7 linked regions of the Homo sapiens genome follow. The protein of the gene in region 5 purifies or fractionates together with the protein of the main gene of each other region. This does not show direct contact. Each region holds a gene or a part of one and is shown on either strand. Other genes may lie near its edges.

Evidence for each region.
Region 1: the proteins of TECTB (region 5) and ACIN1 purify together in Homo sapiens (affinity purification with mass spectrometry; one large-scale study listed by BioGRID and IntAct). This does not show direct contact.
Region 2: the proteins of TECTB (region 5) and MACROH2A1 purify together in Homo sapiens (affinity purification with mass spectrometry; one large-scale study listed by BioGRID and IntAct). This does not show direct contact.
Region 3: the proteins of TECTB (region 5) and RDH11 purify together in Homo sapiens (affinity purification with mass spectrometry; one large-scale study listed by BioGRID and IntAct). This does not show direct contact.
Region 4: the proteins of TECTB (region 5) and MAK16 purify together in Homo sapiens (affinity purification with mass spectrometry; one large-scale study listed by BioGRID and IntAct). This does not show direct contact.
Region 6: the proteins of TECTB (region 5) and ZMPSTE24 purify together in Homo sapiens (affinity purification with mass spectrometry; one large-scale study listed by BioGRID and IntAct). This does not show direct contact.
Region 7: the proteins of TECTB (region 5) and ARL6IP5 purify together in Homo sapiens (affinity purification with mass spectrometry; one large-scale study listed by BioGRID and IntAct). This does not show direct contact.

Annotation. Positions count from the first base shown.
Region 1 is NC_000014.9:23,078,137-23,081,636, forward strand, and holds part of ACIN1 (apoptotic chromatin condensation inducer in the nucleus), read right to left. Parts: exon of another isoform or gene 2,674-3,500; coding exon 1,411-2,673; exon of another isoform or gene 1,324-1,410; intron 903-1,323; coding exon 684-902; intron 562-683; exon of another isoform or gene 131-561; coding exon 15-130; intron 1-14.
Region 2 is NC_000005.10:135,340,232-135,343,731, forward strand, and holds part of MACROH2A1 (core histone macro-H2A.1), read right to left. Parts: exon of another isoform or gene 3,204-3,500; coding exon 3,029-3,203; exon of another isoform or gene 2,924-3,028; intron 1-2,923. UniProt on the Homo sapiens protein: Variant histone H2A which replaces conventional H2A in a subset of nucleosomes where it represses transcription. Nucleosomes wrap and compact DNA into chromatin, limiting DNA accessibility to the cellular machineries which require DNA as a template.
Region 3 is NC_000014.9:67,685,765-67,689,264, forward strand, and holds part of RDH11 (retinol dehydrogenase 11), read right to left. Parts: intron 1-3,500. UniProt on the Homo sapiens protein: Retinol dehydrogenase with a clear preference for NADP. Displays high activity towards 9-cis, 11-cis and all-trans-retinol, and to a lesser extent on 13-cis-retinol.
Region 4 is NC_000008.11:33,495,182-33,498,471, reverse strand, and holds part of MAK16 (protein MAK16 homolog), read right to left. Parts: intron 2,931-3,290; coding exon 2,856-2,930; intron 1,848-2,855; coding exon 1,731-1,847; intron 1,241-1,730; coding exon 1,175-1,240; intron 41-1,174; coding exon 1-40.
Region 5 is NC_000010.11:112,286,400-112,289,899, forward strand, and holds part of TECTB (beta-tectorin precursor), read left to right. Parts: intron 1-3,500. UniProt on the Homo sapiens protein: One of the major non-collagenous components of the tectorial membrane. The tectorial membrane is an extracellular matrix of the inner ear that covers the neuroepithelium of the cochlea and contacts the stereocilia bundles of specialized sensory hair cells.
Region 6 is NC_000001.11:40,264,736-40,268,235, reverse strand, and holds part of ZMPSTE24 (CAAX prenyl protease 1 homolog), read right to left. Parts: intron 451-3,500; coding exon 364-450; intron 1-363. UniProt on the Homo sapiens protein: Transmembrane metalloprotease whose catalytic activity is critical for processing lamin A/LMNA on the inner nuclear membrane and clearing clogged translocons on the endoplasmic reticulum.
Region 7 is NC_000003.12:69,091,437-69,094,936, reverse strand, and holds part of ARL6IP5 (PRA1 family protein 3), read right to left. Parts: intron 1-3,500. UniProt on the Homo sapiens protein: Regulates intracellular concentrations of taurine and glutamate. Negatively modulates SLC1A1/EAAC1 glutamate transport activity by decreasing its affinity for glutamate in a PKC activity-dependent manner.

The sequences.
Region 1 (3,500 bases), on a different chromosome or scaffold from region 5:
GATATATCACTTACACAGTGTGATGAATTCTTTCTGATTCTGGCAGATGAGAGGTCTGAGTCTCTGAGGTTTGGGGCTGTGTGGCAGCTGGTGGCTCTGCCTCTTCAGCTTCACACTTCTTTGGGCTCCCCTGTCAGGAGATAGCAAAAACGAACAGAGCAAAACATTTAGATCTGCTTGGTTCCTTTTCTTCTACCTGGAGCCTGAAAAAGGCAGGGCAGGACATACACAGTACCAGCTCCACACACGGCCCTCTGTATCTGTTATTTCATTTTAGAATAAGGAAAGGAACATGGCTTAAAAATAGGTACTTCAAGAATATTTATGCCAGTAATCATTTTATCAGAATTTTTAATTTTTTTCCTTTTCCTCAGTGATCCTTGTTCTGACAGAATTCTTTTTTGAGAGAACTGAGAAAAGGCTGACTTCCTTTTGGCAGATAAAAGGAGGAGTTATGAGGAAGAATTGACCCTGGGGGCCCTGGAGATAACCCTGCTGCTCAGCCTCATGTAGAACTTCTACGAACCAGGGAGCTGGAAATGAGTTAAGCAGGATTAACAGGTATCCACCACATTTCTACTGAACCTTGTCCAGACTTAACTTTTTAGTTTTATAGCAAAGACAAGAGGGAAGATCTTGCTTAATCCTCCATCTCTGTGTAGGGAGGGGTCACAATAGCCTACCCGCTCAGGCTGTAACCTCTGGGTCACATGCTTTTCAGCTGATTCAGGCTGACTCAGACGCCTTGCTTGGACAGAGGATGAGGAGGTGGAAGTCCTCTCCTTTGGCTCACAGACCTGCAGTTGTGGCACTGGTGGAGTTGCAACCTCCTGACCAGAAGAGGGATCTTTGGTTTCAGTATAGCTGGTGCTGCTGTCCCTGGAGACTCCAGGGCTCAGAGACTAAAACAAAATGAAACACATAACAAGGAAAATTATTGTATATGGTATATATTCAGTAGATTGCTGAGTTTTCCAGTTTCCATGGACCAAATTTTATACTCTGGACCTTTTTGTCTGTGTTTACTCCCATTTTGTCTGTGTTTATTCCCATTTAGTGGTCTCCTTGACCACTTATTTAACAAATTATTAAGTTTTAACTAGATGCTAGATCCTGGGACACACACGTAAAAGGGCATGCCCACATCCTCAAGAAGTTTCCATCTAGTGGAGGAGATGAGTACATAAATTCAACATTCTATCAAGGGACTCAAAATGAAAAAGAACCCCATTTCGGGAATCAGTTAATTGAAAATACGATTCTGAAATGAGGAGAAAGTAATCAGTGAAGGAGAGTAAAGGAGGCTTTTCCTATTCCTTTCAGAAATCATGACAGGCTCTCCAGGGGCTGAAATGAAAACCACTGGAATATGACAGAACATTAATACACCCGGGATTCTCTCATACTCACTTTTCTGCTGTTGCTTGATGCTGAACGAGAACGTGAACGTGACCTTGATCTGGACTCTGATGTTGATCTGGAGCCCATCTTGGGTCTACCACGAGGGTTGGCATGAGTACGTGCCTGGGCTACATCTCTCTGCTTGGATCTGAGCGGTGAATGAGACCGAGAACCTGAACTGTCAGGAGAGCGAGATCTTGATCTAGAACTGGAGGAGGAAGATGAGGAGGACCGGCTAGAGGATGAATCAGCTGACTGTTTCAATCTGTGGCTTGGGAGAAGGGTATGAGAAGCTCTTCTGCCTTCCTTCTGTTCCAAAGATGGCTGTTTCAGACATTCTTCAGTGATTCCTTTGGCCAGTGCTAATTCCTCAATTTTTAGAGGGAGGGGCTGAGCAGATCTGTCTGACTCAGGTTCAAGATCCTTCTGGGCTGAGTAGTCAGCCAGTGTGCTTTTCTGAACCAGAGGCAGGACACTCTCCTCTGGCACTTTCTCTGCTGGAGATTCTGCTTTGGTGTCTGAAGGACTTGACAAAGGAGACAGGCCTCCTACCAACTGGACAGTATGCTGAGATACTAATAGCTCCCTGGTGTCAGCATCTGTATTAGGAGGAGATAACTGAATGAGGACAGCGGGGGCTGGGCCTTCCATGGGCTCTATTTCTTCTTCGCTATGGAGCTGTGGATGAGGTGGTGGAGAAGATGCTTCCTTTGTTAGTAAAGGTGGAGGAGTCTCCTCCTCGCTGGCAGTTTGCTCTGGCAGCGCTACAAGTGAGGCCTTCTTTCGATCTTCAGTCAGTCGAGGAGGGGAAGGAGACTTCGATTTTTCCTTTAAGCCTTGTGAAGATTTTATTTCTCTTTCTTCCTCCTCAAGGGGAGATGTTGTTTTCATTTCCTTCTCCTGCTGCTGTCTGGCCAGATGACTTTTTCTAGCCTCTTCCTGGGATCTTGTAAATCTCCCTCCTCTCTCTAACACCTCCTGTTCCTGGGATCTTGTTTTGGGTCTCTCATCCATCATCTCCTCTGGTTTTACTCTAGGTATCTCTTCCCCTTCTTCCTTAAACTCTTTCAGGATTGGTGCCTCCCTAGATTTTTGTCCCTCATCATCACCTTCCTCTTCTTCATCATCTTCTTCCTCCTCCTCCTCCTCCTCTTCTTCCTCCTCTGTTTTCAAATTTCGATCTGCTCTGACCCTTAGGTTTCTGGAAGGTGTTTCTTGATCCTCTTCCTCCTCAGCAGGTTGGCTGCCCTCAGACAGTTTAGCTGCTCTTGCCTGAAAGAACAGATACACAATGGCTCCAAATGTATTTGCTCACAGTCAACAGAGGAGAGAAAGTATCTAATGAAGACACCCCTAGGAAGGAGAAATTCAATGATATATACTTTCAGCAACAGAAACAGGAGTGACAGGAGACAATCATGACTAACGTAGCCCTTAGGGGAATCAAAACAAAGTGACCAAAAGAAATATCACAATGAAGCTACTTGTATGTAGTTTAAATTTTAGCTTCAAGCACCCCCTTTTTTTTTTTTTCAGTAAAATATTAGCAGAACATCTGGAAAGTAAAAGGGTGGATAGGGGGCTGAAAGGAACTAACCTACTATCAATTAATACGATTATCTTTTTATCATTTTGGTATATTTCTTTTTGTTCTTTCCTCTAATCATTTCCTTTGTACAGTCATAATTACACTACACATAACATTTTTGTATTCTGCCCACTTAGTGTTATATAACTTTAAAGCTTTGATTGAATGGTTAATTATGTCATATCTTGTCTAATAATGTGCTTTAAGAATACAGAGCAGCCTGCTAATTTTCAAATTTAAACTTTTAAAAAATATTCACTTAGAAATCTAAAAGGCAGAGCAGATCTAAATAAAAAGACAAAACGAACAACAAAAAGATGACAAAGAGGAGAAGGAAGATAACCACAAAGAAATCTAGAGGCCAGGCAGTGGCTCATGCCTGTAATCCCAATCCTTTGGGAGGCTGAGGTGGAAGGACTGCTTAAGCCTAGGAGGTCGAGGCTGTAGTAAGCTGTGATTGTGCCACTGCACTCCAGCCTAGGCGACAGAGCCAGACTCTGTCCCAAAAAAG
Region 2 (3,500 bases), on a different chromosome or scaffold from region 5:
CTTAACCCCTCTATGCTTCAGTTTCTTTGCCCTTGAAAGGAATAATGCTGTTCACCTTGTAGGGTTGCTGTGAGATAATGCAGATAAAGGGTTTAGCACCGCGCCTGGGGCTCAACACATACCCATAAATAGTAGCTTGAAAAAAATAAACCAGCTTTTCCTTTTAAGCTTATAAATCTAAGGAAAGTTTAATCAAAGCCCCAAACTAGTATTCCCTATGTACTACCCCTCTGGAGAGGGGTCACCCCTAATGTGAAACAGAGCTGAGGGAGTGGGGGTATCCATAAATATCGTGACCAGAATGGCTGAGGACAGGATGTCCAGATGCCAGGGCCTCACAGGCTGGAGGGAGCCATCACACAGGTGTGGTTATGGTCATCTTCCATCCATGTAGGCTGTGCCACTGGGCCTCAGCTAAGAGAGTGATCCTTTACCAATGGCTCTTTCCCAACATGCTTACCTTTATACTGTTTTAATTCCAACATTACTTCCGTGCCAGAGACACTGGATGCAACAAACAAGCTGTTTTATTTCCCCTCCTAAAACCCACTGTGATTTACTGGCCGGCTCTGGTGTAATCCCATTTTTTTTTACTCATGAAAGAGAGGGCAGCTGTTTACACAGCTCTATGGGGTGAGGTCTGCCTGGCAGATGTGGCCTGGGTAGCTGTACACATGTGCTGCCTTAGGCATTTCCCCCTCTTCAAGCTTTCAATTGATTATTTTTATTCCTACTTTTTACTCCATGAAAAATGTAAATAAGTTTGTAATAACAGATGCTCTTTTATGAGAATTACTTTTATGCTTCAATTAAAAATTTCCCAATACCCATATGAAAGGTTGTGAAATTATTACCTCCAATAAAGTTTCCTATTGCCTCCCTCTGCGGAAGCACCTTTCATCAGAGCAGATCAAAGTGCATTGAAAGCACTAATTAACTGAGCCTCAGAACCATTTGTGAGGATGGGCAGTCCCTATAGCCTCACTTGCTGATAAGGCAGACCAGGGCAGAGAGGCTGATTCATTTAACCAAAGGTCACACAGGATAGGAGAGCTGAGGGGCCTCACTCACAGAACCCCAGGACCAGACAGCCCAGAGATGTGAGGCCAGGGAAGGGGGAGGCAAGCCTGCCCATAGCTCAACAACTGGTGAGGGGTTGCTGGGGAAATGCTCATTCTGCTGTTTTGCCCTTGACTGGGAGAAGTGGGGGTGGCGGCGGGTGGCGGGCAGTGATACAGGCTCCAGAGAAGGTTCAGGTGCAACCAGAGATCTTTCCCCAGAGCCTGGTACTGGTGGGTCCTGCCAGTCACACATGGCCTTGGCCATAGAAAGCCCTGGGGAACGGTGGCAGTGCCCATCTGCCTGTGGACAAGGCCTTTTACTAGGCAGAATGTCAAGTGACAGGAAGCCCACTCTGTACTAGTTCTGCCACCAGTACTTGAGGTGTGGGACCTCAGTGATGGCAGCATGCAGGAGGCAAAATCACGAGGCCTGCCTAAGCGGAAAATGGCAAAATCTACTCTCTATCCTCTAGAAAGTTTGGAAGGAAAGTGCTTTGCAGAGAGCAGCTGTCAGTTCAGGACATGGTTCTGAGGACTGTTGCTCAGGCTCGCCCAGAAGGGACAGCCTGCAGTGTCATAGGCAGTTGATGCTGCACAGCCCTGCCTTCCTTGGGTGCTGGGAGGGGCTGATGGGCAGAGACCCCAGAAGGCTCACAAGCTGGGATGGGAAGCCCCAGGAGCAGTGGCAGGTACTCTGTCCAAAGCAAGCCACCTGCCAATACAGAACCCCAGGTTATGGCTCCTCTTGGGCGCAAGTTGTTAACAGCTACAGCCTCTAAAGGCCAGTTTCTCTTTGCTTCAGTGCCCAATGCAGACCTCGAGCCTTCCAGAGGCCTTGGACTCTTGGACTTAGACCCTTGGTAGGGAGGACCCTAGCAATGGGCAGTGGGACACAATCTCAGAGGTGGCTCTGCCCTGACAGGTCCTCATGTCTGCATCATGGGACACACTTCTGAAAGCACTCTGCCTTCTAAGAGCTCCTTTAATTTCTAGAGCAACCCTGAGATACTGCATGGGGGGATTATTATGCCAACTTCTCAGAATGGGGGTTAATTTACATGTCATCACTCACCGGGTTAGTGGCCAAGCCAGGATGCAACTCCAGGCCTGACCCCTAAGCCAGAGTGCAGTGCTGCTCCAACAGGCAGGAACCTGATAGGTTATTTGCTGACATGTGTGGGGTGTACAACCAGGTAGGTATTGTGGGGGTTGCCCTGAGCCCTACCTGCATCATCAGCTGTCGAAAAACTAGACTTCTCCTGTGGTGGTCCTCCGGGTATGTGTATGTCTTAGGGGCAACTGTGTTGGTCGTGAAGACCTTGGTGAGTCTACCTGGGGATTTTCTGGGACAGGAAGTGGAGTAGGGCCCAGCCCTGTTTCAATCTCACGTAATTCCCCATTCCGTTCCACCAGGTCCCATTACCTCATTAGCAGGCCAGCAGGGTTACCCTAGGGCAGTAAGACAGGGAGTCAGGTAGAGATGCAGGTTCTCAGGAGGTGAAATATACTTGTGAGTAGAAAGGAAAGGGGCAGAGGGCTTTATCCAAAGAATACTGTGGTTTGGGGGACAGACCATAACACAGCTATAGCCTTATTCTGAGACAGCCAAGCTGTTCGTTTGTATCCCTGTATTCACGCCTCCAGATCTTCTCCACCCAAGTCACTGTGCCCCTCAAAACTTACTCTCTGAGGTACCATTTCTGTGGTCCCAGTACACACTGGGTTCCCCTTCTGTGATGACATTTGCTATCAAAACTTAAGTTTTATATCATCCTTGGGATTTGGGTCTCTCTAATTGTCCCTCACCATCATTTAATGTCTGCATTCTTCCCTGTGTTGTGCTTCTGGTCTCCTTGGTTAAGGCAGCCTCCGTGGGCCTTGCACAGAGTGAGAGCACCACAATTATGGGCCATGTGTGCGCAGAGAGACACACCCATGACCGATACGTAACAAGCATGTGCCCCTACCTGCCGCTGCCGATGGATGGAAATGCAATGGATTTCAGCTTCTTATCATCAGCCAGGGCCAAGCAGTTTTTCACTGTCTTTTCCAGAAGTTCTTCACACTTGTCTGCACCCCAAACTGGACTATTACAGTGGATCACAAACTTGGCAGGCAGGCCATGGCCTGCGCTGACAGCAGCTAGTGGTGCGGGGATGAAACAGAAACAGTGAGCTCTGGTTCACTGCAAAGCACAAGATGCCAAACACAGACCCACTCCCCTGCCACGGTATATCTTCCTGGGCCCTCCAATGCCCTGTGTCCGAGGAGTTCCACAGCTGTCTGCTGCGTTGTGATTCCAACGTGAGCTGGAGCCAAGCCACACCCTTGGAAAGTTGGCATTATGATGTGTCACCACCAGGAATTTTGACCAAGTTCGTAGTAAGCCTCTCTCCACTCTCAGAAAGCATACACGGTTCTCCCAGAGGCAGAGCCTTA
Region 3 (3,500 bases), on a different chromosome or scaffold from region 5:
GCCACCACACCAGGCTAATTTTTGTATTTTTAGTGGAGACGGGATTTCATCATGTTGGCCAGACTGGTCTTGAACTCCTGACTTCAAGTGATCTGCCCACCTCGGCCTCCCAAAGTGCTGGGATTACAGGCGCCCATCCCCTTCTTAAAGTCTTCTTTTTCACTGGCTTCCATAAGCCTATGCCACTTCTGGTTTTCCTAACCTTTCTGGCTGCTCTGTCTCAGTTTTCTGGACCAGTTCATCATCTTCTACACAAACATTAAATGTTGGAGTTCTCGTGGCTCACCAGACTCCCTCTCCATAATTCTATGGTGCTCACATTTTGTCCACAGTCCAAACTGCTCCTCTGAACTGCAGACACACTGGGAGTCAACACAATGTGGTGGTTATGGGCATGGATTTTGTAGACAGACTGCCCAGTTTCAAATCCTGGCTCCACTCATTAGCTGTGTAACCTTGGGCAAGTTCCCTTTTGTGACTCATTTCTTCATCTCTAAAATGGGAATAATCATAATACTTACAACCTCACAGGGTAGTTATGAGGATTAAATGAGTTCATATATGTTAAAGGTCTTAAAAGAGTGCCTGATGCAGCTGGGCGTGGTGGCTCACACCTATAAGCCTAGCATTTTGGGAGGCCAAGGCAGGTGGACTGCCTGAGCTCAGGAGTTATAGACCAGCCTGGGCAACACAGTGAAACCCCGTCTCTACTAAAATAGAAAAAATTGGCCGGGCATGGTGGCGTGCACCTGTAATCCCAGCTACTTGGGAGGCTGAGGCAGGAGAATGACTTGAACCAGGGAGACAGAGGTTGTAGTGAGCCGATATCGTGCCACTGCACTCCAGCCTGGGCGACAGAGTGAGACACCGGTGCAAAAAAAAAAAAAAAAAAAAAGTGCCTGATGCATGGTAAGTGCTAAATGATACTTTTGCACATGCTATTTCAGGCCCCCAATCCTTTATGGAAAACGCTGGGGCCAGACATACTTCAATTTTTTTCTCTGATTGTAGAAAGGTAATATGAAATGTATACATACACTGCCTATTAATCTAATCTCCCTAGTACAGGAAATGTTTTGCTGCCAAATGAGTTTTGGTGTAAAGCTTTGAAGAAACAGAATTTTTCTGGTCTTTGTGGACTGACAGCTGCAGACACAGCTGTATTATTCCCAACTGCCTACTCGACATCTCCCTAGATGACCCATAGTAATGCAGACTCAGAGGTCCCAAATTGATTTCTACTTTTAAAGCCAAACCTGGTTCTTGCAGTGTTCCCGACATGCCCAATCAGGCAAAAGGGTTCTGATGAATGCCCACCTAAAGCATGCATCTCCAGTCAACAAGCTTTCCCAAACCAAATCTCTCTCAGAAGTTTCTACTACCCTCCAATTCCACCACCTAGTCCAAACTACCCTCATTTCTCACCTCTGCTGATGAAATCAACTGCTGCAACCCCTCTTGCCCCCATTTTGAAAAGGCTTTAATTTTAACCGTTTCCCATTGCTCTTAGAATAAACACTAAAATCCTTACTGTGGCCTCTAAGGGTTTGGCATCTACCTACCTCACCAGTCTCAGCTCAGATCTTTATTACTCTTGCTTTCTACAACCTACCAATGGTAACCTTCGCTGTTTCTCAAACTGAGCCCGGACCTTTGTACATTCTCCTCCTTCTGCCTGGAATGTTTCTCAGCCTCCATATTCCTTTTTTTTTTTTTTTTTTTTGAGATGGAGTTTCACTCTTGTTTGCCCAGGCTGGGGTGCAATGGTATGATCTCAGCTCACCACAACCTCTGCCTCCCAGGTTCAAGCAATTCTCCTGCCTCAGCCTCCTGAGCAGCTGGGACTACAGGCACACGCCAACATGCCCGGCTAATTTTGTATTTTTAGTAGAGATGGGGTTTCTCCATGTTGGTCAGGCTGGTCTTGAACTCCTGACCTCAGGTGATCTACCCACCTCAGCCTCCCAAATTGCTGGGATTACAAGCATGAGCCACCACGTCCGGCCCTTTTTTTTTTTCATTTTTTCAGACAGAGTTTTACTCGTGACGCCCAGGCTGGAGTGCAATGGCATGATCTTGGCTCACTGCAAACTCTGTCCCAGGTTCAGGCGATTCTCCTGCCTCAGCCTCTCCAGTAGCTAGGATTACAGGCGCCCGCCACCACACCTGGCTAATTTTTGTATTTTTAGTAGAGACAGGGCTTTCACCAAGTTGGCCAGGATGTTCTCGAACTCCTGACCTCAGGTGATCCACCAGCCTCGGCCTCCCAAAGTGCTGGGATTACAGGTGTGAGCCACCGCGCCCGGCCTCAGCCTCCACATTCTATCAGTACCTCTAATCCATTTAATTTCTAATCATCCTTCGGGGCTCAGCATGCAACTCACTTCTTCAGGAAAGTCTTCCCTGAACCCTCAGACTGAATAAGGTCCCCCCAAGACTCCCACTAAAATCCATTGTAAGTCCTGGTACTTCTCCTTTATAACATTTATCACAATTATAATTAAACAGCCACAACAAAAAGGAAACAATCCAGATGTTGTTAAGGAAATACATAAATACACTAAGGCACATCTATACTACGAAATACAACACAGCCAATACAATTAAGGGGTAAATCCATATGTACTAAATGGAAAGATCTCCAAGATACTGTGTTGGAGTTTCAGTTCCTTGTGCATGATACATACATATGTAAATGCATAGGAAAATTATTGGAAAGGGGCACACAAGCTGTTGATAATGGTCATATGAAGGGAGAAGAGCAGGGGGAAGAGGGGAATAAATGAAGGTGGTTTTTCACCTTAATTCTACATACTTCCATATGCTTTGAACTCTTTTTTTTTTTTTTTTGGTAGAGGAGATGAGGTCTCACTATTTTGCCCAGGCTGATCTTGAACTGGCCTCAAGTGATCCTCCGGTTTTGGCCTCCTAAAGTGCCTGGGATTAAAGGTGTGAGCCACTGTGCCTGACCTTATTTGAGCTTTTTACAATGAGAATTATTCATGCATTACTAGACTGATTTTACATTTAATAGTTTGTATAAAGACTTGCTAATTGTCTTTCTCCCCCGTTAGATGTAAACCAAACCAAAGAAGAGACTATACCTATCTTGTTCACCAATTCATCCCCTGTCCCCTAACCCAGTGCACGGAACAACATGGGCACTGAATACGTGTCTGCTGAATGGCTGAATGAATGAATCTTCTGTCAAACCAGGGTTCTTTTACTGCACCATAATGATTTTCCACTGAATCCTCACAACTATCAGAGTCACCTCATTCATGTATTAGTGAATTCTCACCACTGGACCCATCTTTCCACCTCCAGGCCACCCTAGCTCCCTGATCAACTCTTTGGATAGTTTTCACCATCCAGTTACCCTTATCTATCCTAAACTGATAAAAGATGTCATGCCCTGGGCACAGACTGGGCATAAGGACTGAGCTAACCACCAGTTTCCTTCCCATCTCACAGATGTTCATTTGGTAGGATGATCCTAT
Region 4 (3,290 bases), on a different chromosome or scaffold from region 5:
CCTGATCTTCATCACTGCTGGCATCCAGTTTATCCATATCCTATTACGGGGAGAGAAAAGATAAAGGAAGAGGGAAAACACTAGATTTCTCCAAACTCCCTTCCTTGTCCCCTCAATCTAGAACAGACTAGGGCATTGATTTGTCTATGTCTGTGTTCAGAAATTGTCCCTTTCTTTAATTTTTTTTTTTTTTTTTTTTTGAGACGGGGTCTTGCTCTGTTGCCCAAGCAGGAGTGCAGTGGCATAGTCATGGCTCACTGCAGCCTCAAACTGCTGTAGTCAACAATCCTCCCACCTCAGCTTCCTGAGTAGCTGGGACTACAGGCAACCGCCACCACATCCAGCTGAATTTTAATTTTTTTTTTTTTTTTTTTTGGAGACGGAGTCTCGCTCTGTTGCCCAGGCTGGAGTGTAGTGGTGCGCTCTCAGCTCACTGCAACCTCCATCTCCTAGGTTCAAGCGATTCTTCTGCCTCAGCCTCCCAAGTAGCAGGGATTACAGGCATGCACCACCATACCTAGCTAATTTTTGTATTTTTAGTAGACACGGGGTTTTGCTATGTTGGCCAGGCTGGTCTCGAACTCCTGACCTCATGTGATCCGCCCACCTCGGCCTCCCAAAGTGCTAGGATTATAGGCGTGAGCCACCACGCCTGGTCATGATTTTTAAAAAATTTTAGGCCAGGCCCTGTGACTCATGCCTCTAATCTTAGCACTTTGGGAGACTGAGGCAGGCGGATTACCAGAGGTCTGGAGTTCTAGACCAGCCTGGCCAACATGGTGAAACCCCGTGTCTACTAAAAATACAAAAAATTAGCCGGGTGGAGTGGCACATGCCTGTAATTCCAGCTACTTGGGAGGCTGAAGGAGGAGAATCGCTTGAACCCGGGAGGCTGAGGCTGCGATGAGCCCAGATTGCACTATGGCACTCTAGCCTGAGCTACAGAGCGAAACTTCATCTAAAAAAAAAAATTTTTTTTTTTATTAGAGATGAGGTCTCACTATGTTCTTCAGGCTGGTCTCGAACTCCTGAGCTCAAACAATCCTCCCATTTTGGCCTCCCAAAGTGCTGCAATTATAGGAGTGAACCACGGTGCCTGGCCACCTCCCTGTTTTTGTTTTTTTTTTTTTTTTGCTGCAGGCCAAAGGACAATCTTTTTACCCATAAAGCTCACCTCAAAATCACTTATGTCACTCTCATCTACCTCACCATCTTCGACAAATTCTCTTTTCCCCACATCCTATAAATAAAACATAACTGTTAGGTTCAGAATACATAATGAAGATTCAGATTAGACATCTAAGTAAGTACAAAATAACATAATGAGAACCACAGTCTTTTCACTAGGCAATGAAAATTTAGTTCTTTCTAAATTTAATGCTTCTGAATTTTAAAAATTTTAGGGCTACCAGATCATTCTTATTCTTGATTTAAATTATTAGCAATAAAACATCCTCATTATGGTTAAAAACTACATATAGACAGGAAAGGCTTTATAATTTGTCACCTTGCAGGAACAATTTTAGAAGACCAATAAATTAAGACTAAAATTGTTAATGGTTTGTTGGTTAGCCTGAAGAACAGAGCAACCAGTGCTAAACCAAAATTAATCACATGAAAGAAAAAAGAAGACATATCATTTTTGGTTAGCGGACTGAAGATGATATTCTGTTTCTCAGTTTTATACAAATGGTATCTAGTAGGTTTGGCAAAACAAAAACAAGACTTACTTCCTCATCATCATCATCATCATCTTTTTCCTCAGTATCTGAAGAGTCACTCTCTGCCTCCTGTTGTTCCAGGGCTTTGTCGAAGGCATGAATGGGGAAGTTGTAGATGTCGCCATACTGAAGAACATAAACACAGATTGGCTTTAACTACATTTGGATATTACACTTGAAGTTCCACTTTCTGTGGAGAATATTACTTTTTCCTCAGTGATTAAATCAGAATACTTAATTTGATGAGTAATATTTTTAAGTGTAGAGCCAGCAGTGTCTTAAAAAAGCATGTTCTTTTGAACATTTAAATCATCTGCAGTTAGTATCAAATAGGTAACTTCTATGGAGTTACATTTTAAAATAATTTAAAATGTAATAGTCTACAAAACCCATGCATTGGGACAAATGTCATTTTGCTGACAAGGGGAAATAATAAGGAAAAAGCATACTTTAGTCATGTTGTCTGTATAAACAACACTAATTTTTAAAAAGAGAATAAAAACTTATTTCAAAGAGCCTTAAAAGACTAGGGTAATATGCAGGAGAAGCAAAACCCCATGGCTTTTATACAGAAATCTGGAATTGTTGTCTTGGGGAATGGAGCTGAGAATAATGGCAAAAAGGGAAAGGTCTCTTATAGTGAATGGAGTATCAAGGGTAACCAAAGCATTTTATGTGCTTGCATTAATTAAAGCAAGGAAGCCAGGCCGATATGGATTTATTTTATTCCAGGGATAAAATTCGAGTGGAGATCTTCATATCATGTTAAAAAACATTTCCCAGCCAGGCACAGTGGCTCACGAGGTCAGGAGTTCAAGACCAGCCTGGCCAAGATGGTGAAACCCTGTCTCTACTAAAAATACAAAAATTAGCTGGGTGCAGTGGTGGTGCCTGTAATCCCAACTACTCAGGAGGCTGAGGCAGGAGAATTGCTTGAACTTGGGAGGCAGAGGTTGCAGTGAGCCGAGATTGCACCACTGCACTCTAACCTGGGCAACAAAGCAAGACTCCATCTCAAAAAAAAAAAAAAAAAAAAAAAAAAAAAAAAAAAAAAAAAAAAAAAAATTCCCAATATGTCTTAGCAACATACTACCACTTAAAATTTCAGTACCCCAAAGCTAATGGCTTTCTCACCGTATCTTGTTTCAGTCTCTCCAGTAATTCCTTCTCAATGGCATTGTCCAGCTGAGCAGCTATTAATGCCTTTTCCTATAAGGGGGAAAGAGCAAATCTGTTTAATTCATCAGTGCTCATTACTCATCTTATAAAAATGGAAGAAACTACCAAGTTGTTTATAAGAAAGACAATGTAATTATTTCCCCTCCTTGCTAATACTGGCTTTTGCCTTTCCAACGAGATAGATTTCTTCTTCTTTCTCTTGTAAACTTCCTTGGGAACATTTCCATTTTGAAATTCCTATGGTTTTGTAAACAACATTCTAAATTAAATTCTAACACAGGCTTTGATAGATACAAAGCATGTAAGTCTATATACATTTAAGTGTCTCAGAAATAATCTAGCAACTCTGGAGCCAGACTTTGTAAAAGCTGAGAAAAGAGAACAGAAATC
Region 5 (3,500 bases):
TCTCCAGGTTCCCATTACTTCCCTGTGGCCTTTCCTTTCTAGGAGATGGTGGGATGCTTCCTCGGGATTCAGTCTTCCCCAAGCTCTGTGCAGAGCCCCATTCTTAAATTCAAGTTGAAACATGAACTTTGGTTTAGCTTTAAACCTCTTTAAAAACTAAGTGTCACAGAAAGTCAGATTCATAGACTGGATAGAAGAGCTGAAAGGTATAAGATATAAGCTATAATACCAACCTTCTGGCCAGGCGTGGTAGTTCACACCTGTAATCCCAGCACTTTGGGAGACCGAGGCAGGCAGATCATCTGAGGTCAGGAGTTTGAGACCAGCCTAGCTAACATGGTGAAATCTCGTCTCCACTAAAAAAATACAAAAATTAGCCAGATGTGGTGGCACATGCCTGTAGTCCCAGCTACTTGGGAGGCTGCAGCAGAAGAATTGCTTGAATCTGGGAGGCGGAGGTTGCAGTGAGCCAAGATCACACCACTGCACTCCAGCCTGAGAAACAAGAGTGAAACTCCATCTCAAAAAACAAAAATAAAAACAAAAAAACCAATCTTCCGCAAAGATATAAGACCAACCTTCCCATTTTACAGATGAGAAAACTGAGGCAAGGTCAACAGACAATAAGACAGCCAATGTCTGACTCTTAGTCAAGATTAGTTTTCACTACAACCCCCTCCAGAGATTTATATTTAAGATCTAGCTCTTAAAATATTTGGCCCAATGTATTGAGGTTCCTGACTGGGACAGGGCTAAAGAGAAGGATTGGGGTCGGCCTCCACTGCCTAATTCTTTGGTCTCTAAAGCCTTTCAAGTAGCATTTCCTCCTTGCTTAATTTGGGCAGGCTGCCCATGTTGACATAGAAGTTAAAGGCACACTTTGGTCTCTCTCAAAATAAAGTGCTCCAGAGAAACTAAATATGCAATGGCCATTTGCCCAGCTGCTCTCCTCTTTAGAAGGGGTGCTTTGTTTCTTCAAACCTGCAGCTTGCATTGAGGACCCATACACACAGAGACTGTCCCAGCAGGCTAAAGGAAGATGTGGGCAGAAATACAAACCTTTGCATAGAACATTAGAGCCAGAGGACCTGTTGGAAAGGCATCACGTCCAACCCATTCACTTCTCAAAGGAGAAACATCGTACTACCTCTAACTCCATTAACTTTGAACTCTTTAAGCTTGCTTAACCTGCTGCCTGGAAGCTATCAGCCCTGCTGAACTCAGAAGGCGAGAGCTGTAAGGGATCCTAGAATAACCTAGTCTGTTGTACAGATGAGGACCAGAAGCCCAGAGGGAGGAAGGATTAGCCTGAGAGCCCACAGGTAGTTCAGAGCGGTGGCCAGTCTGGAACACAGATCTCCTAGATATGGTCACTTTACTTACTGCGAAGGGAATGAAACTCATTTCAAGGCCCTTTCAAGGCCTTGTGTCTAATTCTGTATTGAAAAATGTGATTCTTTTCATTAAAGAGGGCTCTCCACATTGTAAAAGTTTCAAGATCCCACAAAATCTAGATCTGCCCCTAGCCACACACCACTAGTCGTTAAGTACCGAGAAAGGGAATCCACGTAGCCCTTGACCTATAATCGGGGGCTAAATACAGCATGGGCCACCAGGGTGATGATAAGGTGGTGAAACCACTACAGTCAGTGATGAAAGCCGTCCGGAGAGGAAAATTGGCTTCTGCGCACTGACAACAGTCTCAGGGGACTCCCTGATGACAGGCTGCCTTTGCTATTGAATCCCTGTCTGGAAGTGAATAATTGTTATTTTAACCAGATAAAATTATAGATATGATCCCATGAAGGTTTTACAATAGTTGGCAACACGGAGACACCAGGATTGTCAAAAATCATTGCCCACCATCAGCTGCGTAGAGCTGAGCTTCAGGCATAAACAAAACATCAAGTCTTAGAACTGGAATGAGCTTATTTTCTTAAAAAAAAATAATAATAATAAGAGACATGTCCTCAGCATCCCCCAGGCCATCCTCTGGGCTGGACAGACAGATAACGGGACACTCCCTTCAACAAGTATAGAATTAAGGGTCAAGCGTCCCCTGAGGCCCACCAAGACCTTTCCAGGACAAACGGGCCTCAGCAAAGAAGGGACTCTGCCATCCTGACACTTTCGTACTGATTAATATTCCCGCCATGGGCTCAGTTCCCTATGCCTGACCCATGTGGTTGGTATTTTTTTCTCCTCCCTTCTTCCACTTTCAGAGCATTCTTATGTGTTTCTGAAGCAACAACTGCTCCCTGCATATATTTCCATCAAATTACCAGAAAGAGAGCTCTGCCCTAGATAACACAATGGAATCAATGCACTGCTAATTGCTTAGGATCCTGAGAGCTTCAAATGCTGGGCTCTAAAAGCACCAGTTCTACTCAGCAGGCTTCCTCTTTTCTTTTCTCTCCATCCCCCTCCCACTCACTCTTGACAATATCCCATGGTTGGTATTCCTAGTGAAAAGTTATTTTGACCCTCAATACAAAATAAGGAAGGTAGTTGGCTTACGGAAATACCCTAGTGCTGTGGTTAAGAAAATGGGCCTTCTCAACAGACCACTAGTTTGAAGCCTTGTTCCATCATTTACTAGTTGTGTGACTTTGGGCAAGTTAGTTAACCAACCTCTCTGGGCTTCTATCTCTGCATTTGTTAGCAGGGATAATAATAGCACTTACCCCATAGGTTTGTTATAGAATTAAATGAAATAATCTTTAGGAAGCACTTAGCACAGTGCCTGGTACAAGTTAAGTACCCAAGAAAGTAGCCATTCTCATCATTGTAGACTTTGACTCTATTTAAAGTGGAAACTCTGAGGGCTTCTAGCATTGTTAACTTTATAAGGCTGAACATCGATGTCAGTGTTGGATTATATTGACTTTTATTCAATCAAAACAGTACTGATCATTCCTTTTAGACAGATAGAAATGAAAAAGCTTAAGACGGAAAAAATGCAAGCAATAGAGGCCAAAATCATAGACTCCAGGAGTCAAAACAAGCCTCCGAGGTGGTAAACCTTGACTTTCCACCCAAAGCCCAAAACCCTTCTGCAATATTGCTGTGGGGTGGCCTCCCTGCCTCTTCCAAAGACAATGATATTTGGGCCTTCCCATTTTAGATCAGCTCTGATATCTGACACCCTGAACTCTCGCACATGTGTCCCAGTTCTGTCTTCTGAAATAATATCATATAATTATCTGGCTGACAGTACTTCAAATATGTCCACCTTCTCCAAGCTAAACATCTTGTCTCTGTTGGTGGTTCATTCACCATCCTAGTCACTCTTCTCTGAATATGATCCAGTTGCTCAGTATCCCTATTAAAAAATGAAGCCCAAAGTTGAAGTGTTATATTCTAGACTTTATCAGACCCGTGCAGGCCATCACGGGTCAGAGGTGACCTTCTAGGTTCTGGAAGACTCTAGGAATGTGTCCTAGGAAAATAACTTTAGGGCAGTTTTTTTCACCGCTACTTCACATGGAGCAACTCCGAGA
Region 6 (3,500 bases), on a different chromosome or scaffold from region 5:
CAAAACAATTCCTTTTTTATTACACAGGCACTATATGAAAGGTACCTTAAATCATACAGACAAATCCCTAAGATAAAGAGCCTGGATTCTTGGCTTACCACATGGAAGAAAGTCACCTGATAACTAAAAATACTCACACTGGACTATTACGTGATTGAGAAATAAACCATTGCAAATAAGCCTGTGATATTCTGGGATTTGTTATTGTAACTAATGTTATGCCAATACAGCATGGGTAACCAAGGACTATGCAAACAGAGAGGCAAATCTTAACATTGGCAGAAGCCAAAAAATTAACTTTAGTGGAAAGCCTGCCAAGCTAAAAGAAATACCATGACAAATACATGCTAATGAATCACATACCTCATATTCTGGTCCAAAGCCAGCATAACCACAGAACCGTCCAGAAAGTCTCCAGAGATAAGGTATTCCTCCAAAGAGAAGAATAAGCTATAAAACAAAGCATACTTTGATCACAGTTGAACAGTACTAGAAACTATCATATGAGAAAGCATGGTATAAAGAAAGAAAGGACAAAATAATCATCTCTATTAAAAAAACAAAAGAGGCCAGTACGGTGGCTCATGCCTGTAATCCCAGCACTTTGGGAGACTGAGACAGAAGCATCGCTTGAGGCCAGGAATTCAAGACCAGCCTGGGCAACAAGGTGAGTTGAGACCCCATCTCTACAAAAAATTTAAAAATTAGCTGGGCCTGATAGTGCGTACCTGTAGACCCAGCTACTTGGGGGACTGAGGTGACAGGATTGCCTGAGCCTGGGAAGTCAAGGCTCCAGTGAGCCGTGATTGTGACACTGCACTCCAGCAAGGCAATAAACTGAGACCCTGTCTCAAATAAAATAAAATAAAATAAAATAAAATAAAATAAAATAAAATAAAATAACAAAATAAAATATTTTTTTAAAAAATAGACCTATTTCACATTTAGCATAAATTATGCATTTAGATGAGTACTAACCATTGAGATACTAAATTTAGGTGGTTAATATAACATTTTTGTCTGTACACTATATATGGATGAATTGTATGGTATATGAATTGTATGGTACATGAATTATCTCAATAAAGCTGTTCTAAAACAAAACAAAAAAAAACCTTTTGTCAAAAGACCACAACAAAATCACAAACTAAACTTAGAAAGGTTAAACAGCTGGGTATGGTAGCATATGCCTGTAATCCCAGCACTTTGGGAGGCCAAGGCAGGCAGATTGCTTGTGCTCAGGAATTCGAGACCAGCCTGGACAACATGGTGAAACCTGTCCCTACAAGAAATACAAAAATGAGCCAATTATGGTGGCATGATTCTGTGGTCCCAGCTACTCGGGGGAGCTGAGGTAGAAGGATTGCTTGAGCCTGGGATGTCGAGGCTGCAGTGGGCCATGATCGTGCCTGCACTCCAGCCTGGGTGACAGAATGAGACCCTGTCTCAAAAAAAAAAAAAAAAAAAAAAAAAACTTGTTCGAAATCCAACAGCTAATGAGTGATAGAAATGGAATTTGAACCACATTAATATGGCTCCATAATTGTCTTTTCTGTGAAAGAAAATAGTCCTTTTCCATCAGAACAAAGCACAGAAGTGGAGAGTCATGTCCACTTACTAAACTGGGGAACAGAATGGGATTATCTGTGTCTTTGCTGGGTCAGGAAGAGGTGAGGTAGGGGCCCGGCTTTCACAGGAGAAGGCTCTTCCTCAGCACCACCCTTTGTCTTGGTCTTGGGCAGATAAAGTGAACACAGACATTCACTAAATAACCAGGACATTAGGAGCTAGGAAGCAGCTCAAAATTTGAGAAGAATGCATGTTTAAGAATTCTACCGCCCAAAACACATACAACTTTGTGGAACTCATTTGTCAAGAGGAATCAATTTATTTTTTCTCTCTGTAGGACAGCAGCTTAGGAACACAATGATCAATCACATTCCTTGACTAGAAGCACAATATTCCCACTGGTTCAGACATAGTTCCTCATGGTTTGAGGGGTTTTGGTACTATCATATTTCATGGGTACCCTTCCAATCTAATTCCCATTTTCATACATGTATCTACAAATAATATAGTGATTTATGTATGCTTTTAAAGAATGTATATAAATGACATCATATTATACTTATCAGTCTATGATTTGCTTTTTATATTCTAAATTTTCTTAGATCCATCCATGGTGGACTTCAACTTTATTTGGTATTATCAGGATATTTCCTAAAGTGTTTATAACAAATTACACTCCCATCAGCAGTACTCCAGTGTTTCTGTTTTCCCACAATCTCACCCACACTTTAAACTATCCATCTTTTAGACTGTTACCAGTACATTGGATTGGTTTAATATCATGGGTCTCAAATATGGTCTCTGGACAGCAGCAACAGCATCTGGGAATTTCTTAGAAATGCAAAGTCTCAGGCCCTACCCCAGATGTACCAAATCAGAAGCTGGAAGTGGGGCCCAGCAGTTTCTAGGTAAACCTGATGTACACTAAAGTTTGAAAATCATTGCTTTAATAAATTGTTTTCTTTTTTTAAGAGACAGAGTCTCACTCTGTCACTCAGGCTAGGGAGCAGTGTTATGATCATAGCTTACTGAATTTTTGAACTCCTGGGTTCAAAGGATCTTTCCATGTCAGCCCCCCAAGTAGCCAGGACTGTATGCACCACCATACTTGGCTAATTTTAATTTTTTGTACAGATGGGGTCTCACTATGTTGCCCAGGCTGGCCTCAAGCAGTCCTCTCACTGTGGCCTCCCAAAGTGCTGGGATTACAGGCATGAGCTACTGCACTCAGCCCCAATAAATTGCTTTTCAAAAGGCTCCCCTAACACTACCTCCAGGTATTTCCACTTTACTACAACTAATTCAATCTTAGACATAAACCTTGTTTTCCCAAAAGACATGCTTTGGTACCACTGTCTGACATATGCTGTAGTTGTTGATCTAATTGACCTGGGATGGTATTTCTTTCAGCCAATTCCCAATACTAATAAATAATGTATAATTAAGGACTTATAATGCTTTTAGTAAAGGCCACAGCAACTATTATTAAAAGTCCAGTATTTAAATAAGCATCAAGGGTAGTTTTAATATGAATTCTGAATGATCTATAAATGCATTTGAAAACTGATACTGCAAACCTTTTGGGGACTGAAAAACAAAGCATGTTTAGTTTCTTTTGGGGACTGAAAAACAAAGCATGGTGAACTGTACAATGTCTCTATGTTGACAATTTCACTAAGCATGCTCCCAGGGTTGTTCTATGGCAAAATTAATGATCCCAGAAAAAATAATTCCAGCGCTTTGACATATATTATTTCACTACATTCTTTTTTTTTTTTTTTTTTTTTTTGAGACAGGATCTCACTCTGTCACCAGGCGGGGGTACAGCAGTGTGATCACAGCTCACTGCAGCCTCCATCTCCTGGGCTCCAGCAACCCTCCCACCTCAGCCTCCAAGTAGCTAGAACTGCAGGTGCACATCACCACACTCA
Region 7 (3,500 bases), on a different chromosome or scaffold from region 5:
AGTAGCTATGTCTATAGTTTTACCACAAGTTACTGAAAGGGGAAAAAAAAATCTCACAAAATTTTAGAGCTAGGAAGGATCTTGCTAACCCACCTCATTTTACACGTAAGCAAGCTAAAGAATATACAAGTTAATAAATTTGTCCAAGGCCACCAATTGCAAAGTTGGCAATAAAAGTTTGCCATAACAGAAATCCTCGGATCAACTCAAGGCCACATTTGGTGACTCCTGTCAGGCTGCAAGGCCAAAAAGAACCACCAAAGAGGCAGCAAAATATTTCCTGAGGAGTACAGGCAGCTTTGCACTGAGTTCCAATTTTCTAGCCGAAAAAGCTATTTTTGAAGTGTGGTTTCTGAGGAAGGCTGACTCACCGAAAAAGTGGGGAACAATATACTCACGGTGGACTTCTCTAAATTGGCGATGTTTCTCTGTGGTCCTTAATCAGCCAGAGGGATCACTGCAAATATGAACCCACCCAACCATTTTCTTTTCATTGTTCTTAAACTAAAAACAGAATTCTTTAAACATTCTACAAGGCTTCGCAGGGTCTGGCCCCTGCCTGCCTCTGCAGCCAGGGCCACTGTATATAGGTGTGGAGTTGGTGCCTGGCTGAGGGGGTAAGTGGGGCCTGGAATCCAGGTCACACACTCCACAAGCCAAGGCCAAAATTTGGCTTTGGCTGTAACTGCTAGGAGAGGAAGAAGTGCCTTAGTAATTAGCATGAGGGAACTCTCAGGGCTAGCAGCTGGCCTACCTGCCAGGTTTGTCACACCATCTCCTGATTGCACCCCCATCCACTCAGGGTTTCTATCTACCCCAGAACTCACCTTGCCTTTTGCCATCTCAGGGTGAGGTGAATCAGGCAGAGAGGATACTTTGCACACAGGCCTCACTCCACCCTCCTTCAAGTCTCAGCTCAGCCAGCCTTTCCTCAGTCTCTCTGACCAGAGCACAGCTCCATATGCCTTTTCTTTTCTTTCCTCAAGAAAGGTTCTTCCTCTGTCACTCAAGCTGGAGTATGATGGCATGGTCATAGCTCACTGCAGCCTCTTTCTCCCACACTCAAGTGACCTTCCTCAGCCTTCTGAGTAGCTGAAACTACAGACTACAGGTGAGTGCCAGCTTGCCTGGCTAATTTTTAATTTTTTTCTTTTCTTTTCTTTTTTTTTTTTTTTTGAGACAGAATCTCCCTCTGTCGGCAGGCTGAAGTGCAGTGACACAATCTTGGCTCGCTGCAACCTCTGACTCCCTGGTTCAAACAATTCTCCTGCCTCAGCCTCTCCAGTAGCTGGGATTAAAGCATGCGCCACCACACCCAGCTAATTTTTACATTTTTAGTAGAGACGATGTTTCACCATGTTGGCCAGGCTGGTCTCGAACTCCTGACCTCAAGTGATCTGCCTGCCTCAGCCTCCCAAAGTGGAGAGCTATTTTTGACTATAGGCATAAATGTGGGCTTTGGACACAAATTCGTCTTGAGTAAATGAGAACAGTGTCTCCTTGGCCTAAGGATCATGGAATAAAGGAGACTGTACAGTAGGTAAAACTGAACAGGAGCCTGTCTCTTTTGTTACAGAAAGGTCATAGTGAGATTTTCCTAACCAACTGAATTAGGAAGGCCTAGAGGATTTATTGTATTCTTGCCATTCCCTAAATATTTACTGTATCCTGTGTAATTTGGCACAAATTAAACACTCGCATCCAAACCAACCATTGTCTTTTTAACAGTTGGCATGTTAAAAGTGTTCATACTAAGACATGCCTTAGGAACCTCCAGATTTTCTTTTGTTTTTAATAAACAACAGGTTGGACTCGGATTAGAAACCATAAATCTGACGCTTCCCACAGTGACGGAGCTTCAAATAATAGTTGTGTACAAAGCTCTGATTAGACTTCATAAAACCCTTTTTAACTTTTCATTATGGAAAACTAACATATACATAGGTAGAGAGAATAATGTATAATGAATCTTCATGTATGCTCATCACTGCTTTCACAATTAGCAACCCATGGTTACTCTTAACAACCAATACTTTTTGGGGAACAGAAGTGGAAAGATATTTGTTTACAAACTGTTCTTCTTGAATGATTTTAGAAAATTAAAAAAAAAAAAAAAAGGCTGGGTACAGTGGCTCACACCTGTAATCCCAGCACTTTGGGAGGCTGAGGTGGGGGGATAACTTGAGGCTAGGAGTTCGACACCAGCCTGGCCAACATGGTGAAACCCCGTCTCTACTTAAAAATACAAAAATTAGCCAGGCATAATTGTGTGTGCCTGTAATCACTTAAAAATACAAAAATTAGCCAGGCATAGTTGTGCGTGCCTGTAATCCCAGCTACTTGGAGGCTAAGGCAGGAGAATCGCTTGAACCTGGGAGGCAGAGGTTGTAGTGAGCCAAGATCCTGCCATGGCATCCAGCTTGGGCGATGCAGAGAGACTCTGTCTTAACAAAACAAAACAAACAAAAGCTACTGAGAACTGTCACATGGCAAATTCTTACAGAGCTGTGGAGAGAAGACAGGGGCTGGACAAATGCTAACGAGCTTGGTAACACAGACTTCCTTCTCACAAGTTTCCTGTCTATTTACCCCTCACTAACCCCCAATTTCTGCATTCTTTTTCCTCTGAGACAAGGAGAAGCTGCACCAATGAGATATGAAGCAGATTAGAAGAAGCAGGGCTTTCTGCCTTCCAGGTGTCTCCTTTAGCAAATTGCATAACGAGAAGGAAGGCCAGGAAATCCTATCATATATCAATGATGAATGCTTGCAAACCTGAAGTTGTTAGCCTGAAGGTTTTGCCTAAAATTACAGGGCTTGAAGGCATTCTCAGAAACAGGAAGCCACGCTCATTTCAAGAGACAGAGGATGGTATTAAGGGTGAAGGCATTCTCAGAAACAGGAAGCCACGCTCATTTCAAGAGACAGAGGATGGTATTAAGGGTTAAGTTTTCTGAAGCTGAGTGATAAGGATAGAATTCATTTGTCCAAAAAATAAAAAATACAAAATTTCCAATATTGATGCTTAATTAGATATTAAGTGGGTAGGTCAAGAATGGGTCTTGACCTTTTTGAACTGGATTTCCTGTACAGAGCTCTCTGTCCCTAAGCTGATGGAGAGCTTCTCCTTTCTAAGACAGGGGGCCAGGAATCCAAAATACACTCATTTATTTGCACACTTACCTAGAATCATTGTAAATCCTTACCTAGGGAAAGGAAACAGAAACTACCAACCAAAGGCCAAAAGTAGCAGGCAACATTGAAAAAAAAAAAAAAAAAAAAGCTGGACGGAGAGGGGAGAGAAGTTCAGATAAACAAAGTTACATAAATAGTATCAAAGGTGTGCCAGCCATACCTCTCGCCTGTCATCCCAGCACTTTCGGAGACCAAGGCAGGAGGATTGCTTGAGCCCAGGAGTTCGAAACCAGCCTGGGCAACATGGCAAAAACCCTTCTCTACAAAAAAAAATACAACAATTAGCCAGGCTGGTGGCACATGCC